Regions from separate parts of the Homo sapiens genome. Here region 1 is linked to region 2. Evidence: fine-mapped expression QTL. A gene starts in region 2. The other region holds a variant in brackets. All regions are shown on one strand. Distances are between the middles of the regions.

Region 1 (5,362 bases), 230 kb after region 2:
TGGGGAGAAGCTGCAGAGAGCAGCAGCATGTGCGAAGGCCGGGAAATGGAAAGGGACGTGGTTTCTTCAGGGAGCTGAGGGGCTGAGAGGAGGTAAGCAGGAGCAAGGTTGCACCACTCTTTGAAGATTTTAGATTGGGAAGGCAGAGGAGTGACAGACTGTGTTTGAAAAGCTTTCTCAGGACCAGGCATAGGGGCTCACACCTGTAATCCCAGTACTTAGGGAGATCGAGGCGGGAGGATTGCTTGAGACCAGCCTGGGCAACATAGTGAGACTCCGTCTCTACAAAAAAATTTTAAAAGTTAAGGCGCAGTGGTGCATGCCTGTGGGCCCAATTACTAGGGAGGTTGAGGCATGAGGATCACTTGAGCCCAAGAGTTCAAGGCTGCAGTGAGCTATGATTGCACCACTGCACTCCAGCCTGGGCAACAGAGCAAAACCCTGTCTCCAAAAAAAAAAAAAAGAAGAAGAAAGAAGAAGAAGCAGGAGGAGAGAAGAAGAGAATGGGTTGATCATGTGTGAAGTAGCGGGGGACCAAAGCGGAGCTAGGCAGCCCAAAGAAGAGGCAGAGGCAGGCCGGACTAGATATGCTGCTTCTGAATATGTTAGCTTTGGGCTCAGCATCCAGTTTACATGCAGGTGCCCTGTACTTTTAATCCTGATTGGGCATTTGAAAAATCAATGGGGAAAGATGATGTAAGTGGTTCTAGGTATGTTTCTGCTTCAGTGGCCTCCCAGCGTGCTAATGTTGCCAGAGAGTGTGTAGAAAGTGAAGGATTTTCAACCTAATGCCACATGGTTCTTCTCTTCACCTTCAGGGCCACATCAGAGAGAGAGACAGGTGGAAGGATTAGATAATTTACTTGTACCCCTGATTCCATGCTGTGCAGGGAAGGAGAGCCACCACCATACTAATAAGACATGACAGTCACAAGTTTCTAAGTTATAAATCCACAGACTTCTGGATTTTAAGTGGCTTCCCAAAAGCAGCTTGTACAGAGGAGCCAGAAGTTTCTTTGAGCTGCAAGGCTCTGAGGGAGCTAGAGCGAGCTTGTGCTCTGTGGAAATGTCAGTAAGAGCAGCCTCCCTGCACCCCCGCTGCCTCTTTCCTGGGCCTGTCTTTGTCTCCCAGGTAGGGGAGCATCAGCCAGTGGCCTTGCATCCCTGAGTTGTTATATTTCAGGGTCTCAGCCCAGTGCACAGGCCAACCTAATGGACACACCAGGGGGCAGGGAGGAATAATGCACTGCTTTCCTCCAACCCAGCCCTTCCTGCCTCCTCCATGAACACCTGATGGTGCTAGCCCCAGAATCCACTCAGGACACCTCCTAAGGGGAACAAAGAGCCTGGCCCAGTGTGTGCCACCCTCCACCCCATTTGCCATTGTCATTGAAAGTGACCGACCCTGCCCCAGGCCAGGCACCTGCTAGGTTTGCTGGCCACTCCTGGGGAAGTCATCTGTTTCTGATTTTTCCCTGTATGGCACTTGTTCTACAGGGCACGGGTAGGGGTTGCGATGTTAAGGAGAGAGCCAAAGAGCTCAGGGCAAACTGGACTCAACATGGAAAGCGGAGGACCCTTTAAACAAGCAGAAAACACGTGGAGCAGAATCCCACACCCTAGGCCTGGCACTACCACCAGAAAGCAGGACAGGTCTGGGATGGAGACTGGTCCTCAGGGAGGTTCTATGTCCAGAGGGAGGGGCAGAGCCACTCTTAGGTTGGGAGTTCTCCCAGCCATACAGAGCAGGTTTTAAAGGCTCTGTCCCTCTGATCCTAACCTCTCCTTTGTCTAACCTGATTTTGCTAGCAAGGGTATCCAAAGCTTTCAACCACAAGGAGGCTGTTAGGGGAGGGGCAGTGGCATTGCTGGGCAATGGCTGTCATGTGCCAGATTCTGCTAGACCCGTCTGGTCTTAGGGTCCTCCCAGCCCTGAGTGGGCCTTAAATTCCCTCGGGCTTCATAACGGCATTTCGAGAAGAGGCGGCTTTACTCCTATGACGTGGGGTTTTGGGGCTCAGCCATTCTCTCTGTGTTCTTCCAAGCCATACTGCCAGTCACAGGAATGGAGAAGCCGCTGGGCCCTCTACCATTGGATGGTACTGTCACCTGCAGTGGAATAGTGGGAGCCTGGCCCAATTTGGAACACAGTTAAATTTGTTTCCCTGTGAGGCTGTTCTGGTGAAAGCCAGAGGATTTGGGTTTCACTCCTATTATGTTCATTTTAAGCTTGCAATTCAAACGAATTTTCCAGGGCTAGAGGAATTGTTCCTCTGCATTTTTTTTTTTTCATTAAACGCCTTGCATTCTACCTCTTAACATTTGCTGGTGGGAGGATCTGCCTGAAGGTCCCTGAAGCTCTTCCCTGGGCCACTCAAGGAGACGCGGTCAGCTGGGTCAGGAGGAGCCGCGCTGTGAGGCAAGGCTCTGCTGTGGCCAGGTGCCCACCTGCTGCCTGCCGATTCCCGCCTGACATCCCTGTCTCAAGCCAT[A/G]CTATTCCGCTACACCCCTGTCCCCAAGGAAAGCTGGGCTTAAGGGATGTGGGGCCACCTGGGCAGGAGCATCCCCCAATAGACTGTGGGATGAGAGGATAAACAATGGTGCTGCTTTGTCTTGTGATCTGGGTCAGGAAAGCAGGCATTTGGGAACTGGCCCTTTTATACCTTTTCTAGCCCCTTTGGGAGCCACCCTCTCCTGGGTAGGCCCTAAAGTCCCATCCAGCCCCATTTTCACAGCAAGGAAGGAAGGAGAGGTAGCCCGAAAGCCTTGGCTTGGGAATAGCTCTGTCAAAACACCCAGAGCCTCAGTGAGATGATCTGGAAACGCCCAGGCATCCTCAGGACCAGAGAGGCTCCCTTCCCCCACTAGGGATGTGGAACAGATGGGAGGACATCAAAGAGGAGGCCCCTTTACTGAGGGATGCCCTGCTCCCACCACAGGCTAGTGTTGGGTGCCAAGCCCTATCACCAGTCAGCCAGTCCCAGTTTTGGAAGTCAATGCTGGGGCTTGCTAGAAAGAGCCTGGCCTGGGAGGCAAGAGGCATGGTCTGGCCTCTAGTCTGCAGAAGCCCCTCCACCTCTCTGGATGTTTCCTCAGCTATAAAATTACGGAGTCAGATGAGCTACTCTCTTTTTTTTTTTTTTTTTTTTTTTTTTTTTTTGAGACAAAGTGTCTGTTGCCCACACTGGAGTGCAGTGGCGTGATCTCGGCTCACAGCAACCTCCAACTCCTGGATTCAAGCGATTCTCCTGCCTCAGTCTCCTGAGTAGCTGGGAGGGACTACAGGCACGCAACACCATGCCCAGCCAATTTTTGTATTTTTAATCGAGACGGGGTATCACTATGTTGGTCAGGCTGGTCTTGAACTCCTGACCTCATGATCCACCCGCCTCAGCCTCCCAAAGTGCTGGGATTACAGGCGTGAGCCACCGCGCCCGGCCTGGATGAGCTACTCTCTAAGGTTCTGCCTGGCCCTGCGTTTTCTGTATTCTGAGCCAGAACCCAAAATGACTTGCCTCGGTAGCCCCTGTTCGCAGACTGAAAGCTGATGCCTGGCTCTGGGGCCTCTGCCAATGCTTGGCCCAGGCTGAGTCGGCTGTTTCATCCCTCCTACTGCTGTGAAAGTGGAGAGGGGGCCAACTCTCCAAACCCAAGGCACTGGTCACAGGAAGGCAAGCTTTGATGTCAGGACTCCCGTCAGGCCCAGCTAAAAGGCTTTGGACTTCCCCAGGAGTCTCCTCAGACAGAATGGCTCTGTGCTAACAGAAGGGGACTCATGAGTGCCTTTTTCTGGGCAAGGCTGCCAGGGGAAGGGGAGTGATTAGCAGTGTGTGGCATGCAGCGGGGTGATGACACTGAGGGGGTCACTGGAGTGTGAATGTCATTCCCCCATCATCGTCAACCAGGCCATATTGGTACAAAAGGTGTCTTTATTGAGGTCTGGGTTAAAATTAGGCACTTGGCCAGAGCAGCAGCTTAAATATGAGGCAAGCAGTCAGGGGTTAGCCATGCCTGGGGCTGGGTTGGGGTCATGAGGCTACAGGCACAGACTGTCCCCAGGTGGACAGAAGTTGGAGCAGGAAGAGGAGGAGGAAGGGGCCGCAGAGCAGCCTGGGTCAGAGGCCTGGTGGGCCAGCCCAGTGGGACTAGGCAGGAAGCTCTGGGTGGCAGGTCCAGCAGGGAGGGGACCAGGATCTCTTGCTCCACGTGCCCCTTAGACCCAGGCCTGAGCCTCTGGCAGGGGCAGCCGCACTTGGCAGGGCGGTCTTCCCAAGCCTCACTTCTTCACCTTGGCATCGTAGGTGCCTGCATTCTTGTAGGCGCTCACGTAGCCACTGTCGTCCAGGATGTCCTGCCGTCCCGCAATGCCCTTGCCCTTGCCGCTCTCATCGAAGCGCTCCTTGTGGGAGCCCGTGTATCTGCTGGTGTCCGTCAGCCGGTCTACAGCACCCCCTGTTTTTGCTTTCTGTTTGGACAGAGTTTCCCCAGGGGCACCTGATGAGGGAGCCCAGCCCTTCCCACCCACAGCCACGATTCCCCACACCCCATTCCGTGGCCACCCGAGACCAGCAGGGCACTTACAGTGACGCCCACATTGGCTGGCTCTTTGCCTGCCACCAGCTGGCAGATGGCATCGAAGGCCTCCTCCTTGCTCTTCCCCTTGAATCTCTTGGTCGCCAGCTCTTCCAGGGCCTTCTTGAACTCCTCATAGTTGATGACCCGAGCAGACTTCCCCCTGACAGGCATGTGGGCACCATGAGGGTTCCCCTTTCTTTTTTCTCCCCCAGGGGAAAGCTCAAACACATTTGCTGCCACCACAAATTATGCAATTGCGTTTCTTTCCCACGTTTGGGGAAGTCGCAGGGGTCAGCAACTCTGGAGGGCAATAGATATAAGGTTTGCCCTGGAAGAACGACCTTCGTGATCATGGTGTTTCCCTGACCCCTTCTTGATGTCCTCCCTGGTTCCAGCCCCCCAGTTCCCCACCTCCTGGGAACATGAGAAGCAGGGGCTGCTTAGGGCTCACTTGACTTTGGAGAAGACGATGTCCACATCGGTCCCTGTCACGGACTTTCCGTCAGCCACCTTGCAGTCCTTGCACAGCTTGGCCCAGTTCTTGCCATTCATCTCTTGCCCACTGGCCTTGGGGTCACCATGGATGGCAAACTTGCGGAAGCTCTCCTCCAGCCCAGCCATGTCTGTGCTCGCTGCCATGCCACCCTATAGAGACCCACCTGGGTCATCTCCCAGCCAATCTGCCCTTCCCCTCCCCCAAGCCCAGAACATCCCAGCCTCTACCTCAAACCTGCAAGACCTGGGCAGGTTCTGCTACAGAGTTGGTGCTGGAGCTGCCTGGGGAGAG
Region 2 (5,362 bases):
TTCTGCAGTGATTAGTTCAGGGCGGGGTATAGGACTTAAGTTGGACCCATGAGAATCAACGCTGCGACTCTGGTTGAGCCAATAGGAAAGAGGCACTACTTTCCCTTCCCTTGGGGCTGAACTGGAAGGAAAAGGTAGCTCTCCTTTAGCACTGCTTGGGAAGAGCCTGGCTGGGAATGAAGCTGACACAGAAAGAAAGAGTCAAGAGATGGAGAAGTGCATTCCTAAGCATACTAGGCCCCTGGATCCAGCCGTCCCTGAAGCCATTGCACACTGGACTTTTCAGTTATGTGAGCTAAATAATTCCTTTTTGTTATAAAGCCCTTGGAGTTCGGCTCCAGTCATTTCCAACACAAATTGCTCTATTCCTTCCCTGTCCAGAAAAAGCCAGGGCCCCTTGGTGCTAGTATAGTATCTCCTTCCTCCATCTTCTGACAAAAACCTAGCTCTGGACCAGCGGGGGCAAAATTCCCAGCCAAGGAACCACTGCACTGACCTACAGCTCAATGGTCTCCCAGTTACTACCCCGTGAGACAGCAAGTAGAAAACTGCCTCCTCTTTCTCCCCACCTCACCCTTTTCCTACCCACCCTTTTCCTATAATCATGGGCTCAAGGCCCTACCTCCTGCCCCATCAGTCACACTCCTGTACTCTCATCAGGGTTTATATATGGTGGGCTAAGAGGAGTGTTGAGTGTTAGCTATGGGGCAGGACAGATGGGGTGGCCCAGCTGCCATCTGTTTACATGAGGAACAGGAAGCTGTCCTCCTGCCCTGGCCTCCCAAAGTGCTGCGATTACAGGAGTAAGGCACTACTCTCGACCTTTGTTTTTTCAATTGTCTTGTTTTTGAGACAGGGTCTTGCTCTGTCACCCAGGCTGGAGTGCAGTGGCACTATCGCAGCTCACTGCAGCCTTGACCTTCCCAGCTCAAGCAACCCTCTCACCTCAACCTTTCAAGTAGCTGGGACTTTAGGCACACGCCGCCATGCCTGGCTAGTTTTTGTATTTTTAGTAGAGATGGAGTTTCACCATGTTGCCCAGGCTGGTCTCAAACTCCTGGGCTCAAGCGATCTGCCCACCTCAGCTTCCCAAAGTGCTGGGTTACAGGTGTGAGGCACCACACCCAGCCTTCTAATCTTTTCATAGAAAACATTAATACTTGTGTACTTACGCCAAACCACAGTCTGGATAGTAACAGGAAGTTTGCATTTTGTTTATCTCTGGGCAGGATGAAGGAAGGTAGGTGGGGGTGGGGAAGGATTGTGGGTGATTTTTATTTTCTTTGTATTTAGCAATATTTTCTGCTTTATGTGAAGTAGACATATTTTCTTTGTATTAAAAGAGCAAAATAAATTTGTTTTCTTTAAAAGCAAAACAAGAAAAAACAGGAAACTCTGCAGGTGACAAGTGGGTCCATAATAGGGAGCCAGCCACGGAGGTGAGATAAGGGGGGAGTCCTTCGAAAGTGGCCTGGGGAGTAGGAGAGAGTGGGAACTTCCCCTGGAAACATTCCCTCTTTCATGTCTTTCTGGCCCCTTGACTTGAGAGTGCTTGACTTGGTTATGGTCCCACCCCAAGGGGTGGAAGTGGGGACCGAACAGGACCATTGTCTGCCCATCAGGTCTGTGGGGGTCGAGGGGGAGGTGGGGAGTACTGGGAACCTGGAGACTGGGGATGCTTTCTCACACTCACTAGTACTAGAAGATGGGGAAGGTGAACCAGGCTGGAGGTCGAGTTAACAGGGTAAAGAGGCCAGGGCCCTAGTTTCGCATCCGCCGACTGGCAGCTCTTCTTACGTGTTCTTTCACGGAAGCCCCTCCTTGGGAAGCCCCGCGCCCCACCCACCAGGAGTCGTCCCTTTTTGGGCGGGGCTGAGGCTTCCAGGCTGGGTCCTGAGAAAGTTTGGTGGCCGGAGACTGTGGGGCGCTTAGGTACCGACCTAACAACTTCTGCGCCTGTTTCCAGGGACGAGCCACGCACGGTGCCCCCTGAACACCTAACAGTCCCGGGGGCAGCCCCACCTCTGGCTGGGTGGACAGAGACAGCCTGTGGGCGTGGCCCAGAACTGAAAGCCTGTGACTCCTTGCGACCCGCCGGGCACACCCCCTACTCAGCTACGCAGCTCCCGAGCGCTTGAGGGGAGCTTCCCAGGCTCCCACTAGCCCACCCTCAAGCTGGGGTTTCGCACGTGCGATCGGCTGGGGTGGGCAAGGGGGTCTCCGCTCAAGGAAAGTATTCAGAACCAGCCCCTTCTCCCCCACCCTCTCTCCTGCAGGGCCCTACTGCACCTCGAAAGTGCTGGCAGGGACGAGGAGCCTGCGGGGGCCAAATTCCGTACCGTCCCCCGCCTCCCACGGTGTTCGAACAGCTCAGTAGACCGCCGCCACCAGCTGGCTGGAGCAGCCGCCGGTGACATCTGCGCCGCGCCCACGCTTCGGAGCCAAGATCCACCTCCTCTCCCGCCCGCACCGGGGAGCCCACCCACCCACCTGCTGCACTAACCTGGCCGCCTCGGCGGGGCCTGGGTTCCCACGCCCGCCAGGCTCCGCTCTACTCCGCCGCTTCCGGGTGTGCGCGGAGGCGCTGGGGCGGTGCCCTAGCCCGAGCCGCCCCGTCCGCCCGCGCGTCCCGCCCCGCGGGCTCCCGGTGGCTGCTTCCCGTCCGCTGTCCTCTGCTGCCAGTCCCCTGCCCCGGGCAAAGCCCATCTGGTCCGCCGAGCAGGTAAGACACCAGCGCCCAAGGTTAGACGGCAGGAAGACCCGACTTTGGGGGTTTGCGATTCTTACGAGGCGGGGGGCTCGTAAGAGCTACAGCTGCCAGACTTCGGTAAATCAAGGGGGCGCCCCCTGGAGACCAGAATTTTCTGGTACCCCTGGGGATCCGGCTTCAAGATCGCTGCTACCAGTGGGCACTCAAAACGGGGTGCCCATGGGTCCCAGGTACAAGCCCGGCCGAACGTATCTGAAGCCCCAGGAAACACGTGGCACAAATTCCGGGAGAAACTGTTAGCCCGGAAGATATGGGAACATTAACTGGCGAGTAGTGTGAAGCCTTGTGTACACAAACCTTTAAGAACCTTAAAACAAGATTGGCGGCCGGGCGCGGTGGCTCACGCCTGTAATCCCAGCACTTTGGAAGGCCGAGGCAGGTGGATCACCTGAGGTCAGGAGTTTGAGACCAGCCTGGCCAATATGGTGAAACCCCGTCTCTACTAAAAATACAAAAATTAGCCCGGCGAGGTGGCGCGCGCCTGGAGTCCCAGCTACTCGGGAGGCTGAGGCAGAAGAATCGCTTGAACCCGCGAGGCGGAGTTTGCAGTGAGCCGAGATCTCGCCACTGCACTCCAGCCTGGGCGACACAGCTAGATTCCGTCTCAAAACAAAACAAAACAAAAACAAACAGGATTGGCAACTTCAAAGAGGACGCACACTTTCCAGTAACCCATCCCCCTCTAAAGGCTGCGCTCCAGGGTGGGTCTGCGGAGTTCCAGCCGAACCCAAATTGCTCAGCGGGAGCCAGGGCTGCTCAGGGGTCGGAACTTAAATCTTGAGCCCCTCAGGCCCCAGAACCGTCAGGTCCCAGAGACCCAAGTTTTTTTTCATCCAGTGGGGCTGTCTTAGGAAGCACCCGGGACATCTCCCCGGCGAGGCGGAGGCGGGGAAGGAGCCTCCCCTCCAGGGGTGGATCCAGCTTTGCCCCGCCCACGCCTCGCTTCCTGATTGGCTCATGGTCCCTGACAAAGAAAAGCCTACATTAACGCTCCCGCCTTATTAACCCTGTAGTCACTTTCTACTAACCGGCGGGGTTAAGATGGGGTTTCTCAGGCCGGGCGCGGTGGCTCATGCCCGTAATCCCAGCACTTTGGGAGGCCCAGGCGGGCCGATCGCTTGAGCCTAGGAGTTCGAGGTCAGTCTGGGCAACAAAGCGAGACCTCGTCTCTGCAACAAAATTACAAAAATTAGCCAGGCGTGGTGGCGTGCCCCTGTAGTCCCAGCTACTCGGGAGGCTGAGGTGGGAGGATTGCTTGAGCCCGGGAGACTGAGGGTGCAGTGAGTTGTGATTGCGCCACTGCACTCCAGCCTGGGTAAAGAGCGAGACCCTGTCTCAAAAAAAAAGAAAAAAAAAAAAAAAAGTGGGAGGGGAGTTCTCAACGTGGAACCTGTGGAGTCACAGGGGCTTGTTGAAATGCAGATTCCTGGGCCTTACCCTTTCCGGAGAGCCTGATTTAGTAGGTGAGGCGGTGAAATCTGCTTTGTGAACAAGTTTCGGGGTTATCTGATGCCCCACGCTGTCTGAGAGGCCCTCAGTTCCTCAGGCCACAAGCATTTGTACACCTAAGCTCGGTCTTCCTGCAACACTTTGCGCCTTCCCGACCTCAGAGACGTCCGTCTCTCTCCAGGCCGGAGCTATTGGGAGTGGCGGATCCTCCCACCCCAGCCGGATCTGGGCCATGGCCGAGCCTGGAGAGGGACTGCCAGAGGAGGTGCTGGCACTCATCTTCCGCCACCTGTCCCTGAGAGACCGTGCTGCCGCCGCCAGGGTCTGCAGGGCCTGGGCCGCCGCTGCTACCTGCAGCGCCGTGTGGCACGACACAAAAATCAGGTGAGCCTGCTCCTCCACACTCCTCTCCCCACCGCCCACTCACCTTCTCCGTGGAGTCGTGGGCTAGGTAGATATTCAGGTTGACTCCCCCATATTAAAAAATAATTGCTGGCCGGGCGTGGTGGCTCATGCCTGTAATCCCAGCACTTTGGCAGGCCGAGGCGGGTGGATCACCTGAGGTCAGGAGTTTGAGACCAGCCTGGCCACCATGCTGAAACCCCGTCTCTACTAAAATACAAAAACTAGCCGGGCATGGTGGTGGGCGCCTATAATTCTAGCTACTCGGGAGGCTGAGGCACAAGAATCGCTTGAACCCGGGAGGCAAAGGTTGCAGTGAGCCGAGATGGCACCACTGCACTCCAGCTTGGCGACAGAGTAACAGTTTATCTCAAAATAATAATAATAATTGCTGACGTATTGACTGCCTAGTATATACCAACCATTGTTTTTAAGTGCCTTACATATATTAACTAATTTAATCCTTATGAAAACCTTGTGTGGTAGATAGGTATTATCATTACCTCCATTGCCCAGATAGGAAACTGAGGCAAAGAGACTTAATCACTTCCCACGGGTCACTCAGCTAGGGAATGGCAGAGGCAGAATTCGAACCTAGCAGTCCGGAGGCCATGCCAAGACTCCTTAGAGACAGCTGAGAAAGCCCAGTTCCTAAAATATCATTGGCTCTCCATGTCCAGGTTTCATCCTGTGGCAGACGCCACTGAAATCTTCTAAAAGGATAGGATGCGAGTTCCCTCC

Evidence for each region. PIP is the estimated chance that this variant, and not a neighbour inherited with it, causes the effect.
Region 1: its variant is the best candidate, but not a certain one, in a credible set for the expression of TRADD in whole blood (TOPMed, PIP 0.73).

Annotation. Positions count from the first base shown.
Region 1 is chr16:67,385,898-67,391,259 of GRCh38, forward strand. TPPP3 (tubulin polymerization promoting protein family member 3) reads right to left here. Exons shown (of 4, transcript NM_015964.4): 2 at 5,027-5,220; 3 at 4,582-4,735; 4 at 3,912-4,465. The coding sequence starts at 5,214. The coding sequence ends at 4,277. It also overlaps the pseudogene RNU1-123P. Among named protein-coding and RNA genes, the nearest start is that of TPPP3, 4.9 kb to the right of the region's middle. The variant A/G (reference allele first, on the strand shown) is at 2,493.
Region 2 is chr16:67,157,335-67,162,696 of GRCh38, forward strand. It overlaps TRADD (TNFRSF1A associated via death domain), which reads right to left and starts at 2,575. Exons shown (of 5, transcript NM_003789.4): 1 at 2,504-2,575. FBXL8 (F-box and leucine rich repeat protein 8) reads left to right here and starts at 2,623. Exons shown (of 3, transcript NM_018378.3): 1 at 2,623-2,722; 2 at 4,401-4,603. The coding sequence starts at 4,452. RefSeq lists enhancers at 1,744-2,003, 4,551-5,063, 5,137-5,362 and silencers at 2,604-2,743, 3,764-3,853.